Linked DNA regions of Homo sapiens. The protein of the gene in region 1 purifies or fractionates together with the protein of each later gene. This does not show direct contact. Each region holds a gene or a part of one and is shown in the gene's direction. Other genes may lie near its edges.

The links.
Region 2: the proteins of VSIG4 (region 1) and INTS4 purify together in Homo sapiens (affinity purification with mass spectrometry; 4 studies listed by BioGRID and IntAct, with this or other methods). This does not show direct contact.
Region 3: the proteins of VSIG4 (region 1) and SLC25A15 purify together in Homo sapiens (affinity purification with mass spectrometry; 4 studies listed by BioGRID and IntAct, with this or other methods). This does not show direct contact.
Region 4: the proteins of VSIG4 (region 1) and INTS7 purify together in Homo sapiens (affinity purification with mass spectrometry; 4 studies listed by BioGRID and IntAct, with this or other methods). This does not show direct contact.

The regions. Positions count from the first base shown.
Region 1 is NC_000023.11:66,037,079-66,044,875, reverse strand, and holds the start of VSIG4 (V-set and immunoglobulin domain-containing protein 4 isoform 1 precursor), read left to right. Parts: upstream 1-4,795; 5' UTR 4,796-4,877; coding exon 4,878-4,932; intron 4,933-7,797. UniProt on the Homo sapiens protein: Phagocytic receptor, strong negative regulator of T-cell proliferation and IL2 production. Potent inhibitor of the alternative complement pathway convertases.
Region 2 is NC_000011.10:77,879,647-77,886,668, reverse strand, and holds part of INTS4 (integrator complex subunit 4), read left to right. Parts: intron 1-1,752; exon of another isoform or gene 1,753-1,889; intron 1,890-2,716; coding exon 2,717-2,837; intron 2,838-7,022. UniProt on the Homo sapiens protein: Component of the integrator complex, a multiprotein complex that terminates RNA polymerase II (Pol II) transcription in the promoter-proximal region of genes.
Region 3 is NC_000013.11:40,784,721-40,792,621, forward strand, and holds the start of SLC25A15 (mitochondrial ornithine transporter 1), read left to right. Parts: upstream 1-4,890; 5' UTR 4,891-4,943; intron 4,944-7,901.
Region 4 is NC_000001.11:212,032,542-212,039,803, reverse strand, and holds the start of INTS7 (integrator complex subunit 7), read left to right. Parts: upstream 1-4,246; 5' UTR 4,247-4,366; coding exon 4,367-4,460; intron 4,461-7,262. Other genes in the region: DTL (denticleless protein homolog), read right to left, coding at 3,862-3,913. UniProt on the Homo sapiens protein: Component of the integrator complex, a multiprotein complex that terminates RNA polymerase II (Pol II) transcription in the promoter-proximal region of genes.

The DNA.
Region 1 (7,797 bases):
TGTTTTTTTTTTTTTTTTTTGGCCAGTGTTTGACTTCATATCTCTGAATAACATGCTCATATTGCTATTGTTATTCTTAAAAATCTAGCTCTAATTCACTCCCTCACCTCTATTCACCCAAGTCCTGCACATACATATATGAGTATTTCCTGTCTTCATATTCCACAACTTATTATTAATAAATAAATTATTTATAGACAATGTTGGTGGTGAGAGCAAGATTCAGTGTTTATGTTACTGGTATATCATGGCTGAGCCATATAATATATAATTATATAATGATTGATTTTCCTTTTGATATTTGCTTGGTTGTTTTTTAAACTTTTTTCTTTCTATTAAAATTTAAGTTTCATGTCTGTTTCTTTATTACTATATCCCCCAGGACCTAGAACAGTGTCAGAAACATCAAAAGTGCATTATATGCATTTATTCAATACCTATTATATGCCTGGTCTTACGTCTAGGGTCTTGTAAATATCTTCATCATGGCTTCTTTCAAACTACCAACACAATGTCACTAAACACAGAGTTAGGAATAAATTCACACAATCAGCTCTTAGAATTTAAGTTGTCTCTAGTACACCATTGGTTGAAATCCAGTCACCTAAATTTCTGTCTATTCCCTTCCTCTTCCCTGCTACAGAACTCCTAGGGATCCCCAGAACATAGGTTGAAAATCCATGGGTGAATATGACACCTTTAGAGTATAGATGGGAACACTGAGGCCTAGAGAGGTGAATGAACCCGGGTCTCCTAATGCCCATTCCCATGCTCTTTCCACTGCATTATACAACCAATAGTCTAATTAGTCTCTCAGTTTTCTGCTTCCAATTTCCCCATCCTATTCCATTGATATTCTGCAAACAGATTTGGTCCTAAGAAGCTGCTTTCAACCGCAGCAGGCCCCCGTTTCACCATAGAAGTTTCTACGGCTCCCATAGAAGTCTTTAAGATCAAGTCTAGGCATTTTGGCCTTATTTTCAATACCCTCCACAATCTGGCTTAGCTTTTTCTTCTCCTGCCTTTCTAAATATACACCAAGCTAAAGTCCAACTGACTCTCCCTGTTCATCAGAATCATTCTTGCCTTTGATTGCCTCTGGACTTTGGCTCTTTCTCTACCACTTACCTGGAATTTTTCCCCATCCTCTTTGCCTATCCAATGCTAACCAAATCTCACATCCCAGCCCACACTCCAGCTCCTCTAGAAAGCTTTCCTAAACCACTGAAGTCCATAGGGATTGCTACCACTTCTCAACTCCCATTGTACAAAACAGTTTCTGCCATTCCTTTGTCCCTTAATATGTAAGGCCTGTTATTGTTAGTTTTCTTCTAAACCCTCATGTTTATCTTTCTATGTATTTTTAGGTTGATGTTTATATGTGTATTTCTCTGTATATGTATGTTATATCTGTGTTTTTATTTAAGTGTTCATATGTTTATATGCATGTATTATCTACCTATGTCCTGCTTAAGTGTATGAATCTGTGTTTCATTGCTTGTTTTCTCATGTCTATGTGCAGGTCTATGTGTATTTGTGTGTTTGCATGCATATTTTGTGTGTCTGTGCTTACATGTCTCTGTGTGTATATTTTGTGTGTTGTACATCAATGTGCTCACGTTTGTGCTTAAGGCCATATTATATACATATGTATAGCTATACACAAATGTGTGACCATATGTATCTGTGCATTTATGTTTATTTGTAGTACTTATAGGGGTGTGTGTGTGTGTGTGTGTGTGTGTGTGTGTGTGTGTCCTTGAGCAGGGCCTGTGTGGATTTACTCTTTGTACCACTGCTTCCCTCCAACTCAGTAAGCCCAAGGTGCACATACACACAGGAGGGTCTCAGATAATGTTTACACATTGATAAATTTCTCCAACCTGACCTTTCAACCTTTGTCTAGAAAGGTGGGCTATGGGGGTAGAAATAGACACAGAGCCACAGTGACCTCTGAATATTGGGCCTCAAAGGGTGTGAGTCATTTTCTCTGCTGCTCACCCACATTCTGTGAACTCCTACCACATGCACAGTATCATCTCATGAAGCACTGAGCTTGAAAATAAGAAAAACGTGGACCCCTTGAATTAAAGTAACTATCCATCTCTCTCCTCTTCAACCACTTCATCTTTTCTGGCTCATGCCCTGGTGCATGGAGTATCAAAGGTACAATTTTTTGAAACACCAACTTGGATGGTAAATTACACTTCTGTCATTTATCAGTTGTGTGACCATGGGCAGGTTCCACGGTACCTCCAGACCTCAGTTCTCTCAATAAGGAAAGGTTATTCATAATGTCTTCCTTGTGAGGTAAGGCCTAGGGATAATGTGCACAGCACAGAGCAGGAGTTCTACAAATGGTAGTTTTAGTATCACTTTACCTGGGAAGCCTTCCCACGCTACTATTTCCTTCACTAAATACTGCCCAAACCACAAGTTTTACAGCTCAGTTAATAATTCACCTTGTATTAGTGGTTCATATGTGTTTGTCTTTCCTTTACACTAAAATCTCACTTATACAGGGACCATACCTAACATTTCTTTTCTCTCCCTCACAACATCCAGAAAAGACCTGGAACTATTGTAGAAGTGGTCATTAAAGGTGTGAATGAAGCAGAATAGTGTGTTACTTAACAGTATCATTTCTGGAGGCATATAGCTAGGAGTTTGAATCTTGTCTAGGCACCCTCTATAAAAGTAAGTGATTTCACCATTCTGGGTTTTAGACACATTTGTAAAATGGGGATATATTGAATTCATTCATTCAACAAATATGTGGGCTCTACAATGAAAAAGAAAAGTAGTGTAAGGGAGTATAGAGTGGTAGGGAGAGATACAAGAGTATGTGCAATAATACCCACCTGAGGGGTTGTAAGAACCAAGGGAAATAACCCATGCAAGGTGCTTAATTCAGTGACTGGAAGAGTAAAAGATTTTAAATAGCAACTATCATTATATAGTTGTTATTGTATGTATAGTATAGTTTGATTTTTATAAATCTGAAAAGATACAAGCATCAAGTATAATTATGTTCATGTTACAATTAGGGAAGCTGAGGTTCAGAGAGATTTGACTTGTTCAAGATCTCAGAATGAAGTAGACACAGAGCCAGGCTTATCTCCAGGTTTCTGACTTCTCATCCAATTCTTTTACTAATCAAGAGGGCTACTGAGCCTACTGCAAGACTGGAAGTCTTTCCCAGCCTTGAAGTAATGTTGTGCATACTCCCCAGGACATTTATTTATCTTCAGATCCAGGAGGTCCTAATAAAATGCAAGAGGTAGCACAAAACACACAATCACCTGGCCAGGCAGAAATTTACATCTGTCCAGTGGGCTTTTTAGCGGGGAAGGGGAGGGGTGTGTGTGTGTGTATGTGTGTGCGTGTGTGTGTGTGTGTGTGTGTGTGTGTCTGTGCGGTGGTGGTGGTGTAGTGGTGATAGGGTGTTGGTTGAAAAATATCAAAGGAGGGTTCTGTGAAGTTCAGGGTTTCCTGAGTGAGGACCCGGTGGGAAAAAATGGCTGAAATTTCCAGTGAGATGGAATGAGTGCAGTACTCAAAAAACAAGGAACAACCAGCCAAGGGGGATTGGGCCCTAGAGGCAGAGGTGATTGATAGAATTCCATGTAATAATGTGTCCTGAAATGCTGGAATGTCTCCTTAGCCCGTGCACAGCTCCAAATCATCTGCATGCAGCCACCCCTTGGCAAGTATGTTTCTTTATATTCCCACTCCCCATCTCTGCACAAACTCCTCCCTCCCCTGACCAAGTCCTTTCCTATCCCTCCAATCAAAGAGTAAACTAAGCTTAGCTGTTACTTACAGTGCAGTATGAATTTTTGGGATGTATTTGTGCTTTTGAAAGTGCTTATTGTTTCAAAGCTTAGTAGACAAAGCGCAGTGCCAAACCTAGTTAGACTGCTGATGAAATTACAGTCACTCTGGGGCCTGTGAAGAGGAGCAATTTCTGGAGCAGTTGAGCTTTGCTAGGAGGCATAATATTACTCTCTTGTAGGTCAAGGGCCTGTACCAATTGGAAGTCAATGAAAAATTCAACCTAATACAGCATACCACTAATGGGCTGCTGCACTGGAGGCTAGGCTTAAATTTCCCTTAAAAGAAGTAAAAAATAAATTCCTTATGAAAAAGCATGGAGAACATTAATGAAAATGAATTCTCCCTTACCATCAGAGAGGTGGAGCCATTGTAGAAAGTGATTCAAAGAGCTTCCCCAATATGAGATATGAGGCATATTCACCCATAACAGCCTTATCCATTGGCTTGTCAATTATTCAAGCTTTGATGTGTAGAAAGCCCTTTAATACACTAAACTCTTGTACTCTTAAGCCCAAAAGCACCCCGGGCCCAACACCCTGTCCAGTTGCATAGGCTGCACAGGCAAGGGTTAACAGTACAACTAATGAAAATTGGGTAGGTCAGCAAAGTTGATCTCTTCTCCCTGGGCTCACCACAAAGGAAAACACCGCCATACTGGAGTGGGAAGACTCATCCCAAAGGTCGCCCCCACAACCTCTGAATCTTGTGGAGGAGACTCAAAATAAATACAGCCTAGGAGATCAAAGACCAGAAAGCCCCATTGGCTCCAAGGAAAGTCAAGTCAATACCCTAGCAGGGGGAAGAATTGCTTCACTCATCCTGGAACCTCCAACCCCAAGGAGGTGGGGGAAGGGGGGCACCCCACATGACCTGTACTGAAATAGGGAAGGAAGGGGAATGTGTGATGGGACTAGGAGTTTGAGTGAGAGATATAGGGAAGGAAGGGAAGTAAGCAGTCACAGACGCTGGCGGCCACCAGAAGTTTGAGCCTCTTTGGTAGCAGGAGGCTGGAAGAAAGGACAGAAGTAGCTCTGGCTGTGATGGGGATCTTACTGGGCCTGCTACTCCTGGGGCACCTAACAGTGGACACTTATGGTAAGGCAGAAAGGGGGGCCTGGCTGCCATTGCTGGCTTAGGCAAAAGGCTAGAGGGTTGGTGTTTAATGTCTACTATGGAAAGCCTATTCCTACTGGGCAGGTGAGTCTTCTCAGCCAAACTCTGCAGGCTCTCTCAGCCTTGAGCAAAACGGATGGATGTAGTTGAAGGCTGCTGAAGAAGCCAGAAGGCAAGTTTGGGCAGAAATTGAAAAAGGATTTTTCTCTTGGAAAACATCTGCATTATTTTCTAGGGCTTGTATCTCAGGGGCATCAAGAAGGTTCCCAATGACATCCGAATCTTTCCTCCATCTGCTGTCTCTCATCTAAAATTCTACAATTGGACTTAACCACTCTGCTTCCAAGCTTTGGTCTCTGTTAAAATATACAGCCCCCGAAGAAGGAGTGTTTTCTAAGAGTTGGATAGGACTATAGAAGTAACCTATACCACCCTTCATTGTCATGAATAAGTGCTCAGAAACATCCAGTAGTGATTGAGATTTCACTGTTCACTACCTCCCCAGACCATCTAGTCCATCCAGGAGCAGCTCCAACTGTTAGAAAGTTCTTATTTGTGTTGAACTAAATCCAGTTCCCTCTGACTTCCATCCAAAAACCCCAGCTTTGCTTCTTGGGGCTACACAGAACATAGATGCTTCCTTGCCCTGTGATAGCCCTTCAAAGCCCTGAGGACAAGTACTATGTCTCCTTGACTCTTCTCTCCTCCAAGCTGAACAGCCCCAGCTTTTTCAACTGGTCTTCATAGGACTTGGTTTCTTACCCATTCCTGGGATAACTCACTTCCCTATAGACATGGCTCAATTTGTCTGGGCTATTTATGGGCTGGATACAAATCCCAAAGGAGGATGGACTATTCCATAGTGGCATTATTTCCTTGGAGCTTGGGAAGCTCTATCCTCATCTACACTCCTGAGAAGTGAGATGGATTTTCAGGAAACTCAACCTGGGTAACAGCTAAGTGAGATCCAATATAGGGTAAAGGGGGATTTTGCTGCTTCCCTATCATCCCTAGAGAAAAAGGCTGGATAGGTGTTAGCTTGGTGTCACTTGTTAGGTCAGAAAGAATCCAGCTTTCCGTAGCTGACTCTGATTAGGTTACCCTATCCTGGGGCTCTGTGACCCATCACACTCTGGAACCTCAGAGTTAGAAAAGACTCTGAATTAAGTCAACCAAGAGAAAAAATAATTTGCCCCCAAGCCAAAGAGCATTAGTGGCAGAGTTAATGCTCCTGAAAAAACATTTTTCTTTCTATAACTACCACATTTCCATTCTCTAGCAGGTTTTATAATGTATCTCTCTACCTTCTCCAAGTCTGTTGGTTTGAGCTAGGGCTTAAGCCTGGGGCTTGAGGGAGCATTTTAGAAATGTTAAATTTAAATCCTTTGTTTGTGTGTGTGTATGTGTGTGTGCATTCATGTGTGTGTGTGTGTGTGTGTGTGTGAGAGAGAGAGAGAGCACTCATGTGTCTTGTTCCTTCCCCAGCCTATGAGCTTTTCCAGACCTGGAAGCAGGCCTTCCATTTGTACACAGGATCTTATACTATAGACCTCAGGCTCAGGTTATGCTGAGCTGCAAATAATACCTTCCCTCTCCCTGGACCTCATTGTTCCTAGCCCATCTGTACAGTGAGGAGGTTGACTTGACTGGTCTTAAAGGGGTTTCTCAGCTGGACAACTCTGTGGGACTGCAGCTTCACTGCTAAAAACCCTGTAGCGGCCAGAGTAAGCTGCTAGCCTCTTCCTGTGGGGCTAAGAGATATGTCAAGATAATCAAAATTTAAAAAATTTCTAATATTCACATTTTATATACATTTTAAACATTTCAGAAACATTTTATAAACATCTATTATATAAGTTAATCCTCCATCCAGGAGGCATTCCAGGAAAGGGAGAGAAGCCAGTCATGTGGGGGAATGGGATAGAGATATGGAAAATGTCAACCTCTTTGTGATGATGGGAGGAAGGGGATTCAGAAAGAGACCTAGAATGGGTCTTATAAAGGAGCACACACCTAGTAAATTCAACCTTTCTTTTCTTCAGTGCCATTACACAGGCATCAGACATTTGCTTTTATAAGGCTGGGTCTCAGGACCACATTAAGCTCAATACTGTATATATACTTATCAGCAATAAGTATATATACTTATCAGCAATAAGTATATATACGTATCAGTAATAAGTTTATATACTTAGTAATAAGTATATATACTTATCAGTAATAAGTATAATATAATATAATGTTATATATTATATATAAGTAATTATCAGTAATAATTATATAATTATTATATATTATATATAAGTAATTATCAGTAAAGTGGAAGTAATAATAAAGGAAGTAATATAATATAATAAGTATATAAATATATAATATAATATAATATATTATGAATATATTATATTATATTATTATTATATAATATATATTATATATTGTATTATATAATTATTATATATATTATATTATTATATAATTATATTATATATTATATTATTATATGATATATATTATATATTAATATTATTACATAATATATATTATATATTATATTATATTATTATATAATATATATTATATATTATATTATATTATTATATAATATATATTATATATTATATTATTATATAATATATATTATATATTATATTATATTATTATATAATATATATTATATATTATATTATATTATTATATAATATATATTATATATTATATTATATTATTATATATTATATATTATATATTATATTATATTATTATATAATATATATTATATATTATATTATATTATTATATAATATTTTATATTATATTATATTATTATATAATATATATTATATGATA
Region 2 (7,022 bases), on another chromosome or scaffold:
GCTGATTCCGCCAAGCCCATTCCCTTGGCTGTGGTTTCGCTGGATAGTAGGTAGGGACAGTGGGAATCTCGTTCATCCATTCATGTGCGTCACTAATTAGATGACAAGGCATTTGGCTACCTTAAGAGAGTCATAGTTACTCCCGCCGTTTACCCGTGCTTCATTGAATTTCTTCACTTTGACATTCAGAGCACTGGGCAGAAATCACATGGCATCAACACCCGCCGCGGGCCTTCGCGATTATTAACTCTTGTAAGCCTAATCTAGGTTACTGTATTCTACCTGATGATCATTCATACTGGCCATTTCCTTCCTCTGACCTACTTGGGCCACAGGTTTCTAAGCTCCACTTTTGGAGTAGACAAATGAAAGAAGGCTTCCAGCAACCATTTCACAGAGGAGTGAAGGCCTTTCACCAAGGACAGTTTTGCTGAGAATGCTGGGAATTTTTTTTTTCTTTTTTTTGAGACAAGGTCTCTGTCTGTTGCCTGGGCTGGAGTGCAGTGGCATGGTCAGCTCACTGTGACCTCAAACTTCTGTGTCCAAGGGATCCTCCTGCCTCAGCCTCCTGAGTAGCTGGAACTAGAGATACACACCACTACACCTGGCTAATTTTAATTTTTTTTGTGTGGAGATTGGGGGGTCTTACTTTTTTGCCCAGTCTCGTCTTAAACTCCTGTCTTCAAGCAATCCTCCCGCCTCAGCCCCGCAAAATGCTGGGATTATAGGCATGAGCCACTGCACCTGCTGAACACAGAAATTATGGCCCCTGTTCATTTGTTTTTCCCATGATCATTGCTGTTTCAGCCCCCCTCTGCCCTTCTTTTTCTTTCTTTCTTTCTTTTTTTTGAGACAGAATCTCACTCTGTCACCCAGGCTGGAGTGCAGTGGCAGCGATCTCAGCTCACTGCAACCTCTGCCTCCCAGGTTCAAGTGATTCTCCTGCTTCAGCCTCCCAAGTAGCTGGGACTACAGGCACACGCCACCATACCCAGCTAATTTTTGTATTTTTAGTAGAGAAGGGGTTTCATCATGTTGACCAGACTGGTCTTGAACTCCTGACCTCAAGTAATCCACCTGGCTCAGCCTCCCAAAGTGCTGGGATTACAGGTGTGAGCCACTGTGCCCGGCCCTCCCCTTCATTTTCTAAAAAAAAATGAAGCCCAAGCACTTGTCTTTAAAGATAATAAGGATCAGGAAACTGAGACACCTGCATTTTTTTCCTATAGTAGGTTTGGGAGCTTGGAGCCTAGAACTAGAGTGGGGAGTAGCAGCTTTAAGAAATAAGGGTAGGCCAGGTGTGGTGGCTCACGCCTGTAATCCCAACACTTTGGGAGGCTGAAGTAGGAAGATCACCTGAGGTCAGGAGTTCGAGACCAACCTGGCCAACATGGTGAAACCCCATCTCTACTAAAGATACAAAATTAGCCGGGCATGACGGTGGGCGCCTGTAATCCCAGCTACTTGGGAGGCTGAGGCAGGAGAATCACTTTAACCCGGGAGGCGGAGGTTGCAGTGAGCCGAGATCATGCCACTGCAGTTCAGCTTGTGTGACAGAGTGAGACTATCTCAAGAAAAGAAAAAAGAAAAAGAAAAAGAAATAAGGGTAGGCTGGGCACAATTGCTCATGCCAGTAATTCCAACACTATGGGAGTCTGAGGCAGGAGGATCACTTGAGGTCAAGAGTTGGAGACTAGCCTGGGCAACATAGCAAGATCTTGTCTCTACAAAAAAATTTAAAAAGAAAATTACCTGGCGTGGTGGCACGTGCCTGTAATCCCCACTCCTCAGGAGGCTGAGGCAGGAAGATCACTTGCGCCCAGGAGTTTGAGGCTTCAGTGAGTTATGATCGTGCCACTGCACTCCAGCCTGGGTGGCAGAGTAAGACCCTGTTTTAAAGAAAAAAAAAGAAAGAAAGAAGTGTAGAATCAGGGGGAGGCCCCATGACCTGAGGAGAGATGAAGGATTATAGGGCAAGTGGGTGAGACATGCCTTCCGCAGTTTCAACATTGACCACAGTTTCAACATTGGAAGACCTGTGTGGTTCCCTACTCTGCCTTCATAAGTATATTTACATAGAGCAGGTCCTAGTCCTAGGATAAGCTTCATTTGTTCCTCTAGTTCCTTTGTGCGCTGCAGTATAGTAGGCTGTCTACACAGGGAGCTGGGAGGTCCCCCAGGATGCTGAGGAAAGAACTCTGTTGCAGTTTATGAGCCTTAAAGAACTGGCCAGTGATTTGAGTGGACTCTTCATTGAGCCGTCTCTCCGTAGAGAGAGAGATAAATGACTTCCTAGCTGCTTGCAATGTAGTGGAAAGAATGCAATTACAAAATAACTCCAAATACTGGTGGTTGGTGATGGATGCTGGGCCATGGTATGATTCAGAGCCAGGGAGGGAGTGCTCTTCTGGTGAAGGTGCCTGAGAACACTTTTCATAATAAGAATTAATATTCTTACCTGTCTTTGCGCTTAATAGAGACACTCTGTTCATATTACTTATTCACCATGAATTCAGGAAATGTTTACTGAACACTGCTTCATGCTGGATTAGGGGAATAGAGATGTCTACAGTGTTGACCTACCCCCAAGGCTCAATCTTAGTAAAGTTGGTGTCATGTTTCTTCTTGTGTTTTGAGGTTCACAACAGATGTCATCATCCATTTTGTTAAATGCTCCTCTCGCTTCTGCCTTTTTCTCATTTCTGTCACCCTTTAGGTCTTATATCCAGATGGCCAGGCTCAGATGATTCACCCCAAGCCTGCAGACTTCCGGAATCCTGGCCCAGGGCGGCACCGGCTCATCACTCAGGTTTATCTCTCCCACACCGCTTGGACAGGTAAGGAGTCAGGACCAGGGTGGGAAGGGAAATATGCTGCTGGAGATCACACCTACCCTTAAGCGTTTGGTTTTTAAAGTTTGAAAAAAATACATGGATGAATCAGGCCTTGTAAGAATTGAACTTAATGAGTTTATAAGCACTCATTAAGTGGGTAAAAAACTGGGTATATTTGGGCTAATTTGCTACAGTGCTTTGATTGCATGAGAGATAAGATTCTGTTGGAAGATATACAGGCGATTATGATAGAATGGAGTCTCATGGAAAGGGCCCTGGTCTGGACACCAGGAGATTATTCTTATCCTAACTGCCACCGACTTGCTTGGTCACCTTAGACAAGTCTCTCCCTTTCTGAGTCTTTTTCCTTATCTTCCAAATGACAATAATAATTCTCAACCTACAAATTAGTTGTGAGGATTTTTAAAAATATTTTTTTTCATTTGCCAACTTATGTCTGAATTGTGAGGATAAAATGGGAGAATACAAGTACAAAGGAGATTACATTTCAAGCCTGTAAGCCTGCTTTAAAAAACTTAAGAAGACCTCAGTCTGCAGAACCTAGAATAGGGGGCAGAATTGGCCTCAGTGGTGTTTCCCAAATAATTGGAGATGGTTCAGGAGCACTGTTACTGGAGGTGTTTAATGCCACCAAATTTGGTTTATTTTAGAGATAGGGAATGCCTTTTGGAATTTTCTTTCACTCTGTGTTTTTAAACACATAATTATAAGGCTATTATTATTATTATTATTATTATTTTGAGACGGAGTCTTGCTCTTGCCCAGGCTGGAGTGCAGTGGTGCAATCTCGGCTCACTGCAACCTCTGTCTGCCTCCTGGGTTCAGGTGCTTCTCCTGTCTCAGCCTCCCGAGTAGCTGGGATTACAGGTGCACGTCACTACACCTGGCTAATTTTTTTGTATTTTAGTAGAGACAGGGTTTCGTCATGTTGGCCAAGCTAGTCTCGAACTCCTGACCTCAGGTGATCCACCCGCCTTGGCCTCCCAAAGTAGTGGGATTACAGGCATGAGCCACTGCGCTGGGCCTTTATTAATGGTTTCCCTCTGTCAGGGTGTTAGATGGGTAATGATGACTTTATGAAGCTGTTGGATGTTAGGGCAGCCCCTTTGGGGTTCTAGTGGTGGTAGGCCTGGTGTAGTTGAGGGAGCATCCAGCAGTTCTGCTACCCAGGACGTGCTTCCCTGAGTATTCCTCATTCCATAATCTGGCTGCCTGGAATGTTTTTGCACTATTTGCCAAACCACTGGCCCCACAGGAAAATAGATTCCTTATTCTAATATCTTCTGCTGAAGGGATCCCGGACATGGGGAAGGAAATGCTGTGGGACAGTATTGTTTTGGGAGGGACAAGGCTCAGGAAAGCAAATTACAGTATGCTGTAGCTCCAAAGATCGTGGAAGGTCTTGAGAGGGTCTGACTTGTCCCTGGTCACACAGCAAGTCATTGCCAAGGCCAGAGTTAGAACTCAGCTGATCTGCCCCCAAGCTCAAGGTTCTTTTTCCTAGGCCCCATTTCCTCTTAAGGTATCCTAGTTCATTGCAGACTTCCTTGTTTTGTATTGCCAGGCGATCCTGAGCCTGAATAATTTTAACTTATACAAGATCACAGCCAGGCCTGGTGGCTTGTACCTGTAATCTTCGGGAGGCTGAGGTGGGAGGATCGATTGAGCCCAAGAGTCTGAGACCAGCATGGGCAATATAGGGCAACCCTATCTCTACAATAGATATATAAAAAAGTTAACTGGGCATGGTGGCATGTGCCTGTAGTCCCAGCTACTCAGGAGGCTGAGGCAGGAAGATTGCTTGAGTCTGGGGGGTCAAGGCTGCAGGGAGCCCTGATCATGCCACTACACTCCAGCCTGGGTAACAGAGCAAGACCCTGACTCAAAAGAAAAAAAAAAAAACCATCAGAAACAAGAAAACAAGATCACCTCCTCTGAATGGTCGCTACCCAGTCACTATTACAAATCCCTGTTTTAATTGTTTATATATAGTGCGTACTGGTTTCAGATGTGTTTTCACATTTAATTACTTACTGACTTTCCCATTAGGATGTAGGCTTCTATAGAGCAGGGAACTTGCTTGTCTTTGCCTCTGTATCTCCATTGTTTTAGTAGCCTGTGTCTCTAGTGCCTGACATGTAGTAGGCACTCAACAAATAATGAAAATTGAATACAAGGTTTTAAATGTGCAATAAAAATTCATTTAATCTTTAGACCAACTCTGCAGTGGAAATTAGTATTCTCTTTTCATTTTACAGATACATAAATGGAGGCCCACATACCTGATCAGTGACAGTGCTAAAGCTGCAGTCACCCTTCCCAGCCCTCACTGTGCTATGTCCCTTCCGGTTTGGGGCACTGAAGTGAAATATGTCTCATTGTAAATGAGCTTGCAGTTTCTTTCTCCTAATCTAGGTGATGGGGCCTGGAGTTTCTAGGGAGCTCCTTCAATCCCTCAGTAGCTCCCCACCAGGGAGGGGCCTCTCCTCTGGGAGGCAGGATGCTGCCACGTAGGAAGCTCAGTCATAGACCATGTTTCAAATTCTGCTTCCTTTGCTGTGTGATCCTGAGAAAGTTATTTTACTTCCCTGTCTCATTAAGATGAGAATAAGAATATAAACCTGCTAGGAGAAATATTCTTCCAGGCATGACGCAGAAGTTGCTTGAGTTATCCTAGATGATCTTGTCTCCTTCTCCCAAGTTCCCCTCCTTCTTGTTTTCTCTCTTCTCCGCTTTACTCCTATGGCATTGCCTTGAATTGCCATTCTTATCAAATGTTGGTAAGGGAATGCAAAATGACCCTGTAGGGCTGAGTCCTACATCAACTCCCTCTGACCTTAGCAGGATTTATTTGTTTTTTTGTTTTTTTGTTTGTTTGTTTGTTTGTTTTGAGACAGGGTTTCCTTCTGTTGCCCAGGCTGGAGTGCAGTGGTGTGATCCTCTCGGGCTCAAGTGGTTCCTCCCACCTCAGTCCCCCTAGTAACTGAGACTATATGCCTGGCTAATTATTTTTATTTTTTGTAGAGACAGGTCTCACTATGTTGCCCAGGCTAGTCTCAAACACCTGGGATCAAGTGATTCTCCTGCCTTGCCCTCCCAAAGTGCTGGGATTATAGGCTTGAGCCTTATCCAGCTCTTACCAGGATTTGGCTTCTTGAAAGTGCTATGCCAACTGGGGCTGTGGTTGTGGTCTGCCACTTGGGATGGAATGGGAGAGTGTGGCAGGAAAGCAGATATAGGTACCTATTTTGATTCCACCCTAAGTGGGAGATTCATCTGGAGCCTGGTATCAGAGAACAGTGTTAGTTTCATGACAGTTACACTCATGGCTGCTGCATGACCCTCATGTTGTCATGTGAGTGTGTGCTTATCACATGGCTGGTACTTGATGATGAGGCTGCACTTAGATCTCATGCTGAAATCTGAGGTGCACTGGATTGCTCTGGCCTTGGGCTGACTGCAAACCTTTCCCTTCCTGGAGGACAGCAATCCAGTCTCTACTCTGACCCATAGAGAGAAGCTTGGATGTAACCAGGAAGAGGTCTGGGGAGGCACTGAGAAGTCCTGGAGTCTCTGCCCTTGTTAATTTAGATCCATCTAGCCTTCATTCCTACCCTCTGAACTTCTTAGCCTTGGGATCATCTTCAACTTACACTTTTTGCTCTGGTTGCACCAAATTAAGGAGACATCCCAAGCTCACTCCATTCCTGGCCTTTGCACTTGCCCTTACATTTTTCTGAAATTCTCTCCCTCTTCTTTATAGAAGCTTGTGGTTAATAGAATGAGTAACTGCTTCAGTTTATGAACTGGGCTCAAATTCTTACCCAGGTGTGCATCTGGGGAGTCTCTGAGAACCTATCTGATTCTTGGGATTTTTGCCAAGATTGTGACAGTCTTTCTTTCATAATGTAGCAGGATAAGAACTCTTGGGGTTAACTGTTTGGCATAGAATGGATATTCTATTCCAAAGCCTTCCTGCGCTCCTCCTCAGTACTTCTTGCAGGCTTGGTTAGAGCGTGTGTTGTACTCCATTGCAACTATCTGTTTCCTCAACCAAACAGCAGGCAACTTGAGGGGAGTTCTTAATTATTCTTGCTAGGACCTGCCACATAGAGACACTAGATGATTATATCGTAAGATAATGTAATGAAAGAATGAGATGTTTTC
Region 3 (7,901 bases), on another chromosome or scaffold:
CTGTCCTCTCACCTCTGACCTGCGTCACACTTGCCACCCATCACAAAGCCAGCTGCTTTGAAATCTCTGAATCGTGCAATTCCAAGTACAGCAAACGGTTACCTGGAGCAGAGAGGTCAGTGTGTTGACGTGTTTCCTGTTTGGAACCTAGGTCTGAAATACCATTGAATTGAGCTACCTCTATAGACAGCAGTGATCCATGTCTCTAAAATGTTGTTCTCAAGAGGCCATAGGATTCCTAGGAATTTTTTTTTTTTTGAGATGGAGTCTCACTCTGCCACCCAGGCTGGAGTGCAGTCGCACAATCTTGGCTCACTGCAACCTCCGCCTCCCAGGTTCAAGCGATTCTCCTGCCTCAGCCTCCCGAGTAGCTGGGATTACAGGCACGTGCCACCAAGCCCGGCTAATTTCTGTATTTTTAGTAGAGACAGGGTTTTACCATGTTGGTCACGCTGGTCTCAAACTCCTGACCTCAGGTGATCCACCCCCATTAGCCTCCAAAGATGCTAGGATTACAGGCATGAGCCACCACACCCGGCCAGGATTCCTAGGAAATTACACTCAGAACAAAGTTTGCATGGACACTTTCTTAATTTAGTGCCAATCAGATGATTTTACAATCACTTCTCTGAGCATCTGAGAGATAGGAAGCATTTTTAACATCTATATATTTATTTCTTTCTTCCTAAAATAAAGATAGCAGAAAGAGCCACTGTTGTGGGGGATTTTAAGCTGTGGAGGTGACTTTTATAAAATATTATAGAAGGAGATGTATTTCAGAAGAAAGAACTTCCAGTTCCTGCAGCCCTTTTGCCTTTTTTTTGAGACAGAGTCTCGCTCTGTCACCCAGGCCAGAGTGCAGTGGCCCAATCTCGGCTCACTGCAACCTCCACCTTCTGGGTTCAAGCAATTCTCTGCCTCAACCTCCCAAGTAGCTGGGATTACAGGCACCTGCCACCATGCATGGCTAAATTTTTGAATTTTTAGTGGAGACGGGGTTTCACCATATTGACCAGGCTGGTCTTGAACTCCTGACCTTGTGATCCACCCGCCTCAGCCTCCCAAAGCACTGGGATTACAGGCGTGAGCCACCACATCTGGCACCTCTTGCTTTTAATAAGAAGCCTCGGCTGGGCTCAGTGGCTCATGCCTGTAATCCCAGCACTTTGGGAGGCCGAGGCAGGCGGATCGCTTGAGGTCAGGAGTTCAAGACTAGCCTGGCAAACATGGTGAAACGCCATCTCTACTAAAAATACAAAAAAATTAGCCAGGCATGGTGGCGGGCGCCTGCAATCCCAGCTACTCGGGAGGCTGAGGCAGGATAATTGCTTGAACCCGGGAGGCAGAGGTTGCAGTGAGCCGAGATCGCGCCATTGCTCTCCAGCCTAGGCGACAGAGCAAGACTCCGTCTCAAAGAAAGAAAGAAAAAAAGCCTCTGGGAGGGAGCACTGCACAGTGTACCAGCTGAGCGCCTGACCTTTGGAGTTGGACAGAACTTTGCTGAGTCCCTGCTTTTCTCTTAGCGCCTGTGTAATGTGGCCTCCCAACACCTTGGTTTCTTCTCCAACCTCATTCTCACCAGCCATTGGGCTAGGCAAGGGGACACAGCAACTAAGTTGGACAGAAGACAAATAAATGAGAGTTTGTGCAAAAAACCCAAAAAAGGTAACTTTGTAGACTATGGATTAAAAATCTGAGCAAAATTCCGATAGTTTCTTATAGAACAAATTGGGAGGCATGGAGAGGAGAAATGTGGAAGGCTTGGGAGTGATGAGAGTTTGGAACAGCCCTTGTCAGGATAGGAGAGGAAGGGGCTCAAGGAAGACAAGAGAAAGCACTAGGCTAGGGCCCAATGGCTCGAGGAGAGTACCAAGCGCCCTGCATGGTGGACTGTTCCAGCAGGCTGATGGAACACAGGGGGTTCAAAGGAACCAGTGATGCAGTCATGCTGTGGCTGGGGTTTACAAAAGGCTAAGTGACTCACTAAAGGTCACACAGGGACATTTACACAAACATCCTGGCCCCAAGTCCAGTGCTCTTTCTAATCTATAACAGGGTCTTTCCTTTTTTTTTTTTTTTGACAGGGTCTTGCTCAGTCGCCCAGGCTGGACTGCAGTGGCATGAACACAGCTCAAGAGCTCTTGCCACAGCTTCCCCAGTAGCTGGGACTACAGGCATGCGCCACCACACCAGGTTTAAAAAAATTTTTTTTTGTTTTGATTTTTAGTAAAGACAGGGGCTCACTGATACTGTCATTGCAAAAATTATAACCAAGAAAATTATGATGGTCAAAGAGATCTGACCTAACTGACTCTATCTTGCTTCTAACCTCCAAACTGTCCTTGTTCTGGGTGTAGGCCCAACTAACTCTGGGAGGAGCTTAGATTATAGTTTAGCGTTGAAACAAAGACGACAACAGCCCTTTCCCAAAACAAACCCCCTTCCTGCCTGGGGACTAGGCCGCCTTGTAGGACTAACAAATTAGCCACAAGTTTACAAATTATGGTTTAGGAGTCATGCAGCTGGAGACTGCAAGATTCTAAACCTCCCCAAATAGCTCCTCAGGATGACATCACTATTGTAAAACCTAAGATCACAGATAAGATTGAGATATTTTTGCAGAGCCTGTACTTGATGGATTGATCAGCTGGCACTACCCAGATTGATAAACTGCCTCATCTGGTTTTGTGGCCCCCACCCAGGAACCGACTCAGCGTAAGAGGACAGTTTAGACTCCCTATGATTTCATCTCCAACATGACCAATCAGTACTCCCACTCACTGGCCCCCTACCCACCAAATTATCCCTAAAAACTCCAAACCCCGAATTCTTGGGGAGATTGATTTGAGTAATAATAAAACTCTGGTCTCCTGCACAGCTGGTTCTGCGTGAATTAAACTGTTTCTCTATTGCAATTCCCCCATCTTGATAAATTGGCTCAGTTGAGGCAGCGGGCGAGAAGAACCCATTGGGCAGTTACATCACTGTGTTGCCCAGGTTCAACTCGAACTCCTGGGCTCAAGCAATCCTCCTGCCTCAGCCTCCCAACATGTTGGGATTACAGGCATGAGCCACCACACCCAGCCAAGTCTGTCCTTAATCAGGGTTCCTTTGGGTCTCATTTTCTGAAGCTGCAAAAGCTATTGGACCAGGTGACATTGCCAACCCCTTTAAGCTGCTGTAACTGTAGTTTCAGCTGCTGGATCTGCTTTCAGTTAGTTATGTTCCCCATCACTTTGGACAAGTCATCCCAACTCCCTGGCTTGTTTTTGTAACTCGATTACAGTCCAGAAGCCCAAGTTCTAAAGTGCTGATTCTGATGAGTGTCCATGTACCAGGCACTCTGATCCCATCATAGCATCTACTACAGCCTGGGAGGTCTACTCAAGTGTGCATTCATGTTAAGCACTAACACCAATTAAATCACTTAAATAACGTAGGTAATTATCCAATAGCACATCCAGACGTGGTGGCTCACACGTGTAATCCCAGCACTTTGAGAGGCCGAGGCAGGCAGATCACCTGAGGTCAGGAGTTCGAGACCAGCCCGGCCAAGGTGGTGAAACCCTGTCTCTACTAAAAAATACAAAATTAGCTGGGTGTGGTGGCGCATGCCTGTAATCCCAGCTACTTGGGAAGCTAAGGCAGGAGAATCGCTTGAACCCAGGAGGGGGAGGTTGCAGTGAGCTGAGATTGCACCATTGCACTCCAGCTCGGGTGACAGAGTGAGACTCTGTCTCAAAAAAAAAAAGAAAAAAAAAGAAAAAAATAATAATCCAACAGCACATCTAAACAAGGCTTAAAGTTGTAAAATAAAATTACACTGTGTGGAGGGTGTGTGTGTGTGTGTGTGTGTGTGTGTGTGGGTGAGAGAGAGAGAGAGAGAGAGATGAGGTCTCTGTCATCCAGGCTGGAGTGCAACAGTGCCATCATAGCTCACTGCGGCCTCCAATTCCTGGCCTCAAGCGATCCTCCCGCCTTGGCCTCCCAAATAGCTAAGAATAGAGGCATGTGTCACCACACCTTTTTTTTTTTGTCGTTGTTTGTTTGTTTTTATGAAACGGAGTCTCGCTGTGTAGCCCAGGCTGGAGTGTAGTGATGCAATCTTGGCTCACTGCAACCTTCACCTCCCAGATTCAAGCGATTCTCCTGCCTCAGCCTCCCTAGTAGCTGGGGTTACAGACACGCACCACCACGCTGGATAAATTTTTGTAATTTTAGTACACGGGGTTTCACCATGTTGGCCAGGCTGGTCTTGGACTCCTGACCTCAGGTGATCCGCCTACCTCGGCCTCCCACAGTGCTGGGATTACAGGCGTGAGCCACCATGCCCGGCTAATTCCTGTATTTTCATACTTAGTTGTATTTCCTATTAGGGCCTTGGATCCCGAGTATAATTTTGTACTCAAATATAATTTATAAATAAGGCCTTAGCCTCCCAACAAGGTCAAAGTAGCTAAAAAGTAAGTCCTCCCAACCACTGACATTACCAGCCCCCAGCCCCCAGTCCCAGCCCAGCGGGCTAACAAGGGTCCGGCCTCAGAGAGGGTCTCGGGGATCCCAGAGGTGGGAAAGTCTCCGGAGGCGCAGGCCCCGCTCTCCACCTTCACCAGGGTCGGCGGCAGCACCACGCCGGGTCGCGGGCTGGCTGTGCGCGCCGCGGCCCCACGCCCACTTCCGCTTCCCGTGCTGGGGGCGGTGGCAGGGCCGGTGGGCGGTGGCGGCTCCCGGTCTCGGCTCGGGCACGGCCCTGGGCAGGCCGCCCGCCAGCCGCAGGGGCGCTCCTGAGCTTCGCGGGGCCGCAGTCCGGGATGCCTGCGCGAAGGGAGGGGCGAAGGGCCGGCCGTTGCCGACGTGGGTGTTAAGTGGCCGCCCCAGCCGGCGACCCGGAGCCGAGAGCGGGCGGCGGAGCCTGAGCTGGACGCGGCCACGCCGGCGCGGCGGTGAGCGCAGCCCGGTCTGGCGCCTGCAGCTGCGGGGAGCGCGCCAGGCAGAGGGAGCGGGGAGCGGGGCGCGGGGCGGGCCTCGGTGTGCGGGCGGCGTGACCTTCCCGAGCGGCGGGGGAAGCGGCCAGCGTCGCAGCGCACGTGCCGCGGGACTCGGAGAATCTCGGGGTTGTCGGCCTCCTTCCTGCAGTGCCCACCTGGTGGGAACTTTTGTCCTTGTTTGCCCCCAAGTCCTGTCATTTGGCTGCGGGGCTCCGCGCCTCAGGGGCGCCAGTGCTGGGCAGCATGGAGCCGCTTGTGAATGGAGACTTGCTGGCTGCCCAGGAGTGGGCGGCTGGGCAGGGGCGGTGAACGTTTAGGGTCCGGCCAAGAAAGTTGGAAGTCGTCTCCCTGACCTGTTCCTTGCGAGGCCCGGGAGGAGACGCGCCTGGCCGGTCCTTGGCGGCGAAACTGATTTGCATCTCCACGCTTTACCTAAAGCCCGGGCTCTGGGGACTGGATGGCGAGCTGGCCTGCGGCTCCTTTAGCCAGAAGCTGGGATCTTCCCGCAGCAGTTCGTGTTCCCTGGTGGAAAATGCAGCCTCATCTACTGACTCTCCCTTCCAAAAAAAAGTTATTTTCCCCAAGGGTCGAGAAAAGTGGGTGGTCGGCACTGTTGTTCCTCAGTTGCACCCTGGTGTAATTTGAGAGAGGGGTCAAAGGCGCTGAAAAGATTCTTTTTTCTATTCCAAGTGCTACAGCAAGCTCATAAATCAATTTTAATTCATGCTGAACAGTCTTGCCTCCTCCAAGCCCTGTGTCTTCTCCAAGCCAGAGCTACACATAATGTGAATTAGCTGCCCACTCCTTCTGAGTGAATCTGTTAGTACCCATCATCGTTTTCTATCCTAATAATTCTAATGGCTATTTGTAGAATTTATTTGTTTGTTTATTTTTTTGAGACGGAGTTTCGCTCTTGTTGCCCAGGCTGGAGTGCAATGGGGCGATCTCGGCTCACCGCAACCTCCGCCTCCTGGGTTCAAGCTATTCTCCTCCCTCAGCCTCCCGAGTAGCTGGGATTACAAGCATGGCCCACCACGCCAGGCTAATTTTGTATTTTTAATAGAGACGGGGGTTTCTCATGTTGGTCAGGCTGGTCTCGAACTCCCGACCTCAGGTGATCCGCCCGCCTTGGCCTCCCAAAGTGCTGGGATTACAGGCGTGAGCCACTGTGCCTGGCCTATTTGTAGAATTTAATGTGTTTAAGTTTGGCTCACCTAACAGGGTTTAATTCTTAGGGACAGATAGAATGTAATGTGATGTGACTTTCCTTCAAAATTAAGAAGGAAGTGTCTGTGCCAAAAGAAATAAGCGCATTGAGGTTTATCTAGGAGGCCACATTGTACTTGCCTCTGTCTGTCTGCTCAGTTGCCCCCGTTTTTTTCTTTCCCAAAAATATAGGGTTGGGTGTTTTGTGTTGCCTTTGGCCAGGTTGAAATACTCAGATTAACGGTTGGTTTGTAGGCACAGGCCTGAAAAGACAGGACTTTGAACTGAATCCTCTGTCACTGACAGTTGTGTGGCCTTGGAGAAGACCTTGTCTTGCTCCAGGCTTTAGTTTGCCTTCTGGGAAAGGATTAGGACCCTGATAAACTTTTTATTTATTTATTTATTTATTTATTTATTTATTTTATTTTTTATTTTCTATTATTATTATTATTTTTTTTTTTGAGACAGAGTCTCACTTTGTTGCCCAGGCTGGAGTCCAGTGGCACAATCTCGGCTCACTGCAACCTCCACCTCCCGGGTTCAAGTGAATCTTCTGCCTCAGCCTCCTGAGTAGCTGGGACTACAGGTGTGCATCACCACGCTGGGGTCATTTTTGTATTTTAAGTAGAGACAGGGTTACACCATATTCGTCAAGCTGGTCTCAAACTCCTGACCTCGTGATCCTCCCACCTCAGCCGGCCCAAAGTGCTGGGATTACAGGCGTGAGCCACCGCGCCTGGCCAGGACCCTGATAAACTTTTTTAGGAAGATACCAGATGGCCACCACCTTTTCAGCCTAGTGAATGGTCCTGTCTCTCCAGACCTATCAACAGCATATAAATCAGTGTCTTGCACTTCTAACTTAGTTGCTTTATTAAGTAATGTGCCGTTGTTGCCACTGGTTTTAAATTTTTTGTGAATAAAGGAGGATTATTGAAGTCTCGTCGTTGGCAAGATGCTTCAAGAGGTTTAAACAACTTCTCCACGGCCAATGTTTCCTGTTGACGTTCAGGGTGACATTGGTGTTAGGAGCGTGCTTGGTGTTCATCTCTGATCCAGCACGATGGGTCACACGGCTCCTCAGTGTGATGAGGAATAAGTTGTTCCTTATTATTTGCAAATAAGTTACTAACACCGTTTGAAAACTGTACAGGATTGGTCGTTGAGTTGGATATTTTAGTCAACATTTATTAAGCCCATGCCTCAACAGTAGTTGACTTTTGTCTAAAGAGAGAGAAAGAAATTCTAGTTTTCCCAAATGCCCAAGGCTCCAACCAAAACATACTGAATCCAGATTTCCAGAGGAAAGTCCTGGCAATTTGGATATTTAATAAGTGCTCCAGGTTATCAAGTGGATTTGGACACAACGGCCCAGGTGTTGTATCTCAAAGTGTGAGTCTGTGGACTGGCACTGTCCGCCTCACTTGGGAACTCATCAGAACAGGCAGAACCTCTGGTCCTGTCCAAGGCTACTGAATCAGAGGCCGCATTTTATTTAGCAAGGCCCCCAGGCTACTCCTGCACACGTTTACATTTGAAGGGCTGGTGGTCTGTGGTGACGGGAAGATGTGTGTGACAGGAAGATGCTTGCGCAGGGCCTTGTTCTAAGAACACATGATGCTTGTGCACGGTGTGGCGTCCCATCAGTCTGATGTGGCTATTTGTGACTGTGTTTGTTTTATAATATTTTTATTATTCACCTTGTAC
Region 4 (7,262 bases), on another chromosome or scaffold:
TGAACCTTTTCTATGTTTAAATACACAAATACTTACCATTGTGTTACAGTTGCCTACGGTATTCAATACAGTAATATGCTACACAGGTTTATAGCCTAGGAAAAATATATAGCTTAGGTGTGTAGTAGTTACACTATCTAGCTTTGTGTTTATACTCTGTGATGTTTGCACAATGATAAAATCACCTAATGATGCATTTCTCAAAATGTTATCTCCATTTATAAGCAATTGGATGACTATATACGCATTTCTAAAACTCACCTGTCTGAAAAACCTGATGTCTCTGAGAAGGTTGAGGTACCACTTTTTCCCTTTCCCTTCATCACTTCCTTTCTTCCACTTTATAAAAGAAAGGCATTCCCGTGCCCCAATCTTAAACCTTGCACTGATCCAAAGAATAAAAACTTTTGGGTATCAAATATTTTTAAATAAAAACAAATAAACTGGTGGAACCTTAACTAAGAGATAATTAAATAATTCCTTCAATAAAGGGACCATAAACACCCAAATTCATCTCTTTAAAAAGATGGACTTCCAATAAAATTTTACTTTTGGTTAATAATTATCAAAATTGGTAATCTATATTGTTTTAATCAATCATATAGTACTAATAATTGAATTGAAAATTCAATCCATAAAGAAGTTTTAATACTTGGAGGCTTATGACAGAAAACAGCAATTTAAACACATTTTTTGACACAGAAGGGTATGACAGAGTGATCAGTAAAAGAGCTTTTCAAGCATAAAATTAAATTACATTAGGAGAAATTCTGTAGGAGAAATGAAATGGAAATAAATTCAAGAGGAAAAAGCAGCTATATGGAATGTCCAGCAGATAAAGAGGAGTTTGTATTTTTCTAAAAAATGGATGATGTGATTATCAAATCACTATAGTATTTAAATTATATTAGATACACTTAAAGGAGTGATATAGCATTTTTATTTTTAAAATGTCAATATTCCCAATATGGTCAGAAATTATATTCTTTGCATTTGTTTAAGTTTATAATAAAAACTTTTAGATATCAATTTAAAAATACACAGAAGAGTAATCAGATTTCCATTTTAGAAGGATCATTAGCAGCAATGTGGAGAATAAACCGAAGACAGACAAACTAGGAGGCCATCTGGGAGACTTCTTACAATCCAGACAAGAAGGCATTAGGGCCCAACCTAGGGAAATGGAATAGTAAAAATAGAACACATCCAGCATACAGTAAAGATGCATAATCATAACAGATAAAGAAGAGAGGATGGATTCAAGAGATTTTAACGAAATGTTTTGAATGTGTAACTGTGAGGAAGATGAAGAAGTCTTTAATTTACTCAGGTTTCTGGCAGGTTTAAATAATGAGGCCACTCTCTAAAATTGGTAATATTGCAGGTTTGGGGGAAAAGCTGAGTTCAGTTTTGGGTATTTGAGTTTGAGATGCTTGTGGGATTGACCGTCTAGGTGCTAATCAACCCACACAGCTTTTATAGAAATGAATCTCAGGTACAGGAAGTCTTCCAATAACATAATTTTGTACAATGTCATTTCGTTATACTGTTCATGAGGAAAAAATCAATTCCTGTTTGAGGCCATTGGCCGTGTGGAGTTTGTACATGCTCTTCCCATGTTCATAGGGGTTTTCTCCAGGTACTCTGGTTTCCTCCCACATGCCAAAGATGTGTATGTTAGGTTCACTGGTGTGTCTACATGGTCCCAGTAGACAATGAGTGTGTGTGAGTGCTTCCTGTGATGAAATAGTGTCTGGTCTAGAGCTGGTTTCCACCTTGTACCATGAGCTGCCAGGATAGGCTCCGGGCACCCACAGCCCTGAGCTGGAATAAGTGTGTCAGAAAATGAATGAATACAAATCATTGTAAAATAAAAATGGGTAAACTTTACAATAATCATACAAATGAATGACAATAAACGATTTGGTATGAAAGGGCTCAGTGAGCTGCCATATTTGTGATTGTTTTTGACCTGGGTGGTGGTAGGAGGTGCTCCTTCCAATTTTCACTTTGCAAACATTTATTCCTTGATTTAGCCCACCACCACTATGACCGAGGTCACTCGCTGATACACCAAAACTTGGATAATTATCTCACCTGTTTTTATTAATCTTTCTCAAATATATGTATAGCACACAATTATTTCAACATTTAATATTAAAAGTACTTTGAGTCTTTCTTTAGAAGTTCGGTGGTGTTTGTGTGACCAAAATATGCCACTGAAACAATTCTTATTTATATCAAGTAGCCTATGGTAGAGTTAGTTTAGTTATACACTGTTTTCCCTAAAGTCACAGTTTCCAAGAGCCTATCTAGACATTAAGTGAGGACTTACTATATAAGTAACAGAAGGTTGTATGTATGTAGAAGTGGAAGAAGCCCTGGTTGTGGCTGTGATCATCCAAAGGAGTAGGTAGAAGAAGAAAAGGGGTCAAGGATGGAACACCAACACTGAAGAGGAAAGGAGATGATTCTATAGATTTCATATAATAACGAATGAATTTCAGTGACTATTATGTAACAACGAATGAGTACTTGAGAATAGGAAAGAGGGAAGGGAAAGGTAAACACATGGAGAATTAGGAGAAAATCTGTCACAAAATAGAGGCTGAACAGCTCCCCCAGAACACACATATAGTAAGGTGTGGAAGTATAATAAAACCCAGGCAGTTTAACTTCAAAGACAGAGTTCTTAGCCACTGTGCGTACTGTCACTCTTAAACAGAGGACAAAGAAGTTACTCAAACAAGGTCCCAGGAGAGACAGAAAGAGGAGCATTTAAGTATAATTACAAAGATTATCTAAGAGGGAAATAAATAAGGATGGTATAAAGTTTCAGACTGCTAGCAGGAAGTTGAGGGACTACTTCTCAGTCTCTTTCTCAATATTATTTTCCTAGACTCATCGCTGAATATAAAAATTCCCTTCTCAGGTTCGTTTTCCACATAGTTTCAAGGGGAAAAAGAACCTCTGGCTATAGTCGACCTTCACATGAGTGAGATTTTATTTCTGTCCAAGGTTAATCTGGGTAGTTAGCTCCCTTATCTGAAACTTACCAAAAAGTTTAAGTTGATGACATCCAAATCTAACCTCAAATCTCTTATTGCCAATGTTTTAGCGTAAGAAAATAAGTTAGATTTCTACGTATTAACATGGGAATACGTTCAACTTATACCATTAAAGTGAAAAAACTGGACGTTTTGATCCGATTTCTGAAAATAATAGGTATTACCTCTAGCGTCGAAAACATCTGGAATAATATACTTCAATCTATTAACAGGGGTCATCTCTGGCGGATGTGGTTACAGGCATCTTTCACTCTATAATTTAAATTTTTATGACCGTGTAGTAAACGGGGAAAATAAGATTTTGTTCCTGTTAGAAGCAGATATCCTGTCTTCTCTGCTTGACTGAGTTCCTTAACAGCGGGTCATATTCACTGGTATATACCTATAGCACATAGCTGGGCTCACTAAGATTCTACAACAAACGAATGAATTAATCAATGATTAGGAGTTTTGAGCATCTCAAATAACCGTTGAAGGAAACATATACACACAAATGCATGCATTTTCCCGTTAACGCGCAATGGAGATGTAAGCTGTAAGGGGCCTTGGAAGGCAGTTATTTCGACGTCCCTGCCTACGTTACGATTTTAAAAGCCCGATTACGATTACAAGTGTCCCGAGGGGATGAAAGTACAGCTTTCTTTAGTAGTCCCTGCTAACACTAATTTACCCTTGCCATGGGAGAACTCAGAAGCTGAGTTCAGAATTGGAGTCGGCCCTGGTCGGAGGTGGCGTGTGTTTCGGGGGAAATGAATTCCGCCAGCTCCGAGCAGCGGTTGGGACCGTTACTCACCATTTCTCAGGACGCCAAGCTGGGGCTGGCGGAGCACCGAATTGAAGAGCATCAGGGTCGGAGGAAAAGCCTCAGCTGAGAGAAAAGTCGTAGAAATGCCTCCAAGTTCAGCAGAAATCGCAGCTTGCGCCTCTCACAACACAAATCGTTATCGCCTCCAACTCCCGCCACTGTAAGCCCCGGCCGCCAAACTCCGCGCCAAACTGACGTCACGCTCTCTGATTGGCTTCCGAGCGACGTCCGGGCGCCTCAGAGTCATTTCCCCCTTCGGATCCCCGCCTCCTTTTCTCCCAGCCGCGGGAACCTGGAGTCCAAGAGCTCCTTGAGCGCCTGCGCAGGGGGTAGCAGAGGCGCGGACAAACCGCGGGGTGACCAGGGCGCATGCGTAACAGGGCTTGACAGCGCGCGGAAGAAAAACCAGCAAGAAGGCGGCGGGGGAAGATGGCGGTCCTGGGGTAGAGTTTGCAAGCTTTCTGACTAGGCTAGTCGAGTAACTATTCGGGTCATGGCGTCAAACTCAACTAAGTCTTTCCTGGCAGATGCCGGCTATGGCGAACAGGAACTGGATGCCAACTCTGCCCTTATGGAATTGGACAAAGGTATTCGAAAGAGAGGGCTGAATGGGTGAAACAGGCGTGGGGGGAAGTGGCGCCACCAGGTGGTGGTTGCTTTGGGAGAAGACGGATAGGCGCATGCGCATGTCTTCGCTGGGCGGGGAGCGCCTGTGCTTTTGCTGGGGCGTGGGCTTTGACCCCTTCGGGAGGTTGCGGGAAATTTGCAGGATTGTGTGACTGGCCTTATACCGGCTAAACAAGTAGCGAGCTCTAGTGAGAGGCCCGTTTTGACCACTTGAGGGAGCAGTCCCCCGATTTTCTAAGCAGTGACAGTGGCTAGTTTCTAAGAGACACTGCAAAGAAATTGTGAAATTGGTTTTCAGTCTGTTCAGTTGAGACCAGGTCTTCATGAAATGTGCTGAATAGTAATCTTGCACCGACTTGACAGCGATTCATTTGATTTCCATAGCTCTGTTACCTGCGGGTTACAAGGCAGGCTAAACCTGGCCAAGACCATAAAAAAGCAAGGGCCCTGCTCATTCTCTGCGGACAAGTTCCAGGAGTTCTGTTGCCGTACAGGGAGCAGCTTGGTGTAGAGGGAGCTTTGGGGTTACACTGAGTTAAGTTTCAATGCCGCTGATTTTATGATTAACTTCATCTAGCCTCGGCTTGTCGTCTGCAAAGTGGGTACAGTACCATTGAGCCGGCAGAATTGTATTAAGTGACTTAATGGTATGCAAAAGAAGCATTTAGTAAATGCTGAAGAGATATACCTCCCTTCTTAGATGTGGATATGGGAGGCAAGGTCGGAAATTTGTTAGTAAAGAACTCGACTAGTAATATGAAACCTTTATTTCATATTGAGGATTTTTATTGTACGGGAAACATTTCGGCAGCTGGTATACAATTAAATCTTGATTAATCGTAGCCAATATATAATGTTGGAGAACTGGACTAGAACTCAGAAGGGTTTGAGCCACTTCCCAGTTTTCTGAGTTGGACATGTCTATTAACTTTTTTGGGACTCTTTTTCTGTTTATTTTTTAAACTGTGAATATTTTTAGTGGGTTAGTCTAAATAAGAGTTTCTCAGGCTCTTAAAAAAGCTTTTACCTTATTTTGATAAACACAAAAATTTCACAGCCCCCTAATGGGATATTCCTTTGGTTGAGTCTCAGTATCTTTAGTGCACCCCCATCAACCAAGAAAATTATGTTGAACTTTTCCTTCTCTTACCAAATCTTTAGGGGTTTTCTCCTCTGAAAAAAAAAAGTATAATACTAAATGTGTTTTTCTCTTTTTTTTTGGAGACAGAGTGTTGCTCTGTTGCCCAGGCTAGAGTGCAGTGGCGCCATCTCGGCTCACTGCAACCTCCGCCTCCCGAGTTCAAACGGTTCTCCTGCCTCAGCCTCCCGAGTAGCTGGAATTACAGGCGCCCGCCACCACGCCCGGCTAATTTTTGTATTTTTAGTATAGACGGGGTTTCACCATGTTGGCCAGGCTGGTCTCCAACTCCTGACCTCAGGTGATCCGTCCGCCTCGGCCTTCCAAAGTGCTGGGATTTACAGGCATGAGCCACCGCGCCCGGCCTTAAATGTGTTTTTCAAACACTTTCCTCCTCATTCTGATACATTTCTTTCTTATTCCTCAGTGAAAGTTACAGGTCAGGATAATATCTAATATCCCTACGAGTTCTAAGGACATTTTCTACCATTCTGGTGCAGCTGAGCTTGTCTCATGCTGACAATAGGATAGTGGTTGTGGAACAGGGATAAAGATGGGGCACTGAAGAGGAGTCTAGAATGGTTTAATTCCTCAAATTTTGCAGTTGTAAGAAAAAAACCACAATTTTTCCTTTTTAAAGAAGAGTTGAAATGAAAATATTTTATATCTATAGGAAAGAAATCAGGTGTCAATCTTAGACACAGAGTAAGTGATCATTTGCACTCCTCCCAGCAATGCCTGGCGTGAGTGTTTTACAGGTGAATCTCAGGCTCAGAAAGATGACTTGTTCTTTTTCATCTCATCTGTAGTAACTTTTAAAGCTGTTAGGAAATTAAGTTATAGAAATAGCCAGTTTCGTGTAGAATATAGTTGAGTATTTTAAATATTGAGTCATTTCATCTTGTACCTGTTAAAGTATTTCTGTTTTGTGAGCTAAAGGTCAGAAGGCTACAAGTTCCAACTCTTTTTTTCGTTCCCAAACTCCAAGGAATACTGTTTCTGAAATATCTCCCCCACCTCAGCATACACACTCAGACACATGACTTATTTGATCGGGCTTTGTACTAGGAACATGGCAGTTAATGAGACAAAACTCCTGCCCCTATAGAGCTTACATTCTAGACAGCAGATGCAGACACTCCGCAAATATAGCAAACGTGACAGTTAGTGATACATATTATAAAGGAAAATGAAGCAATGAAAGGGACTGGAGAAAACTGATCTGGGGCTGGAGTTGATTTCTTATTTTATGAAGTATAGGCAAGAAAGACCTCCTCAATCAAGTGGAAGAACAGCAAGTACAAAGGCCCTGAGGTAGAAGCCTCCTTTGCATGCAGTTATCTGGAGCAAAGTAATAGGCAATGAGTATAGAAAGATAACCAGAGTCAGTCGGGCGTGGTGGTTCACGCCTGTAATCCCCGCACTTTGGGAAGCTGAGGCGGGCGGATCACGAAGTCAGGAGATCGAGACCATCCTGGCTAACATGGTGAAACCCTGTCTCTACTAAACAAAATACAAAAAATTAGCCAGGCGTGGTGGTGGGCACCTGTAGTTCCAGCTACTTGGGAGGCTGAGGCAGGAGAATGGCGTGAACCTGGGAGGCGGGGCTTCCAGTGAGCCGAGA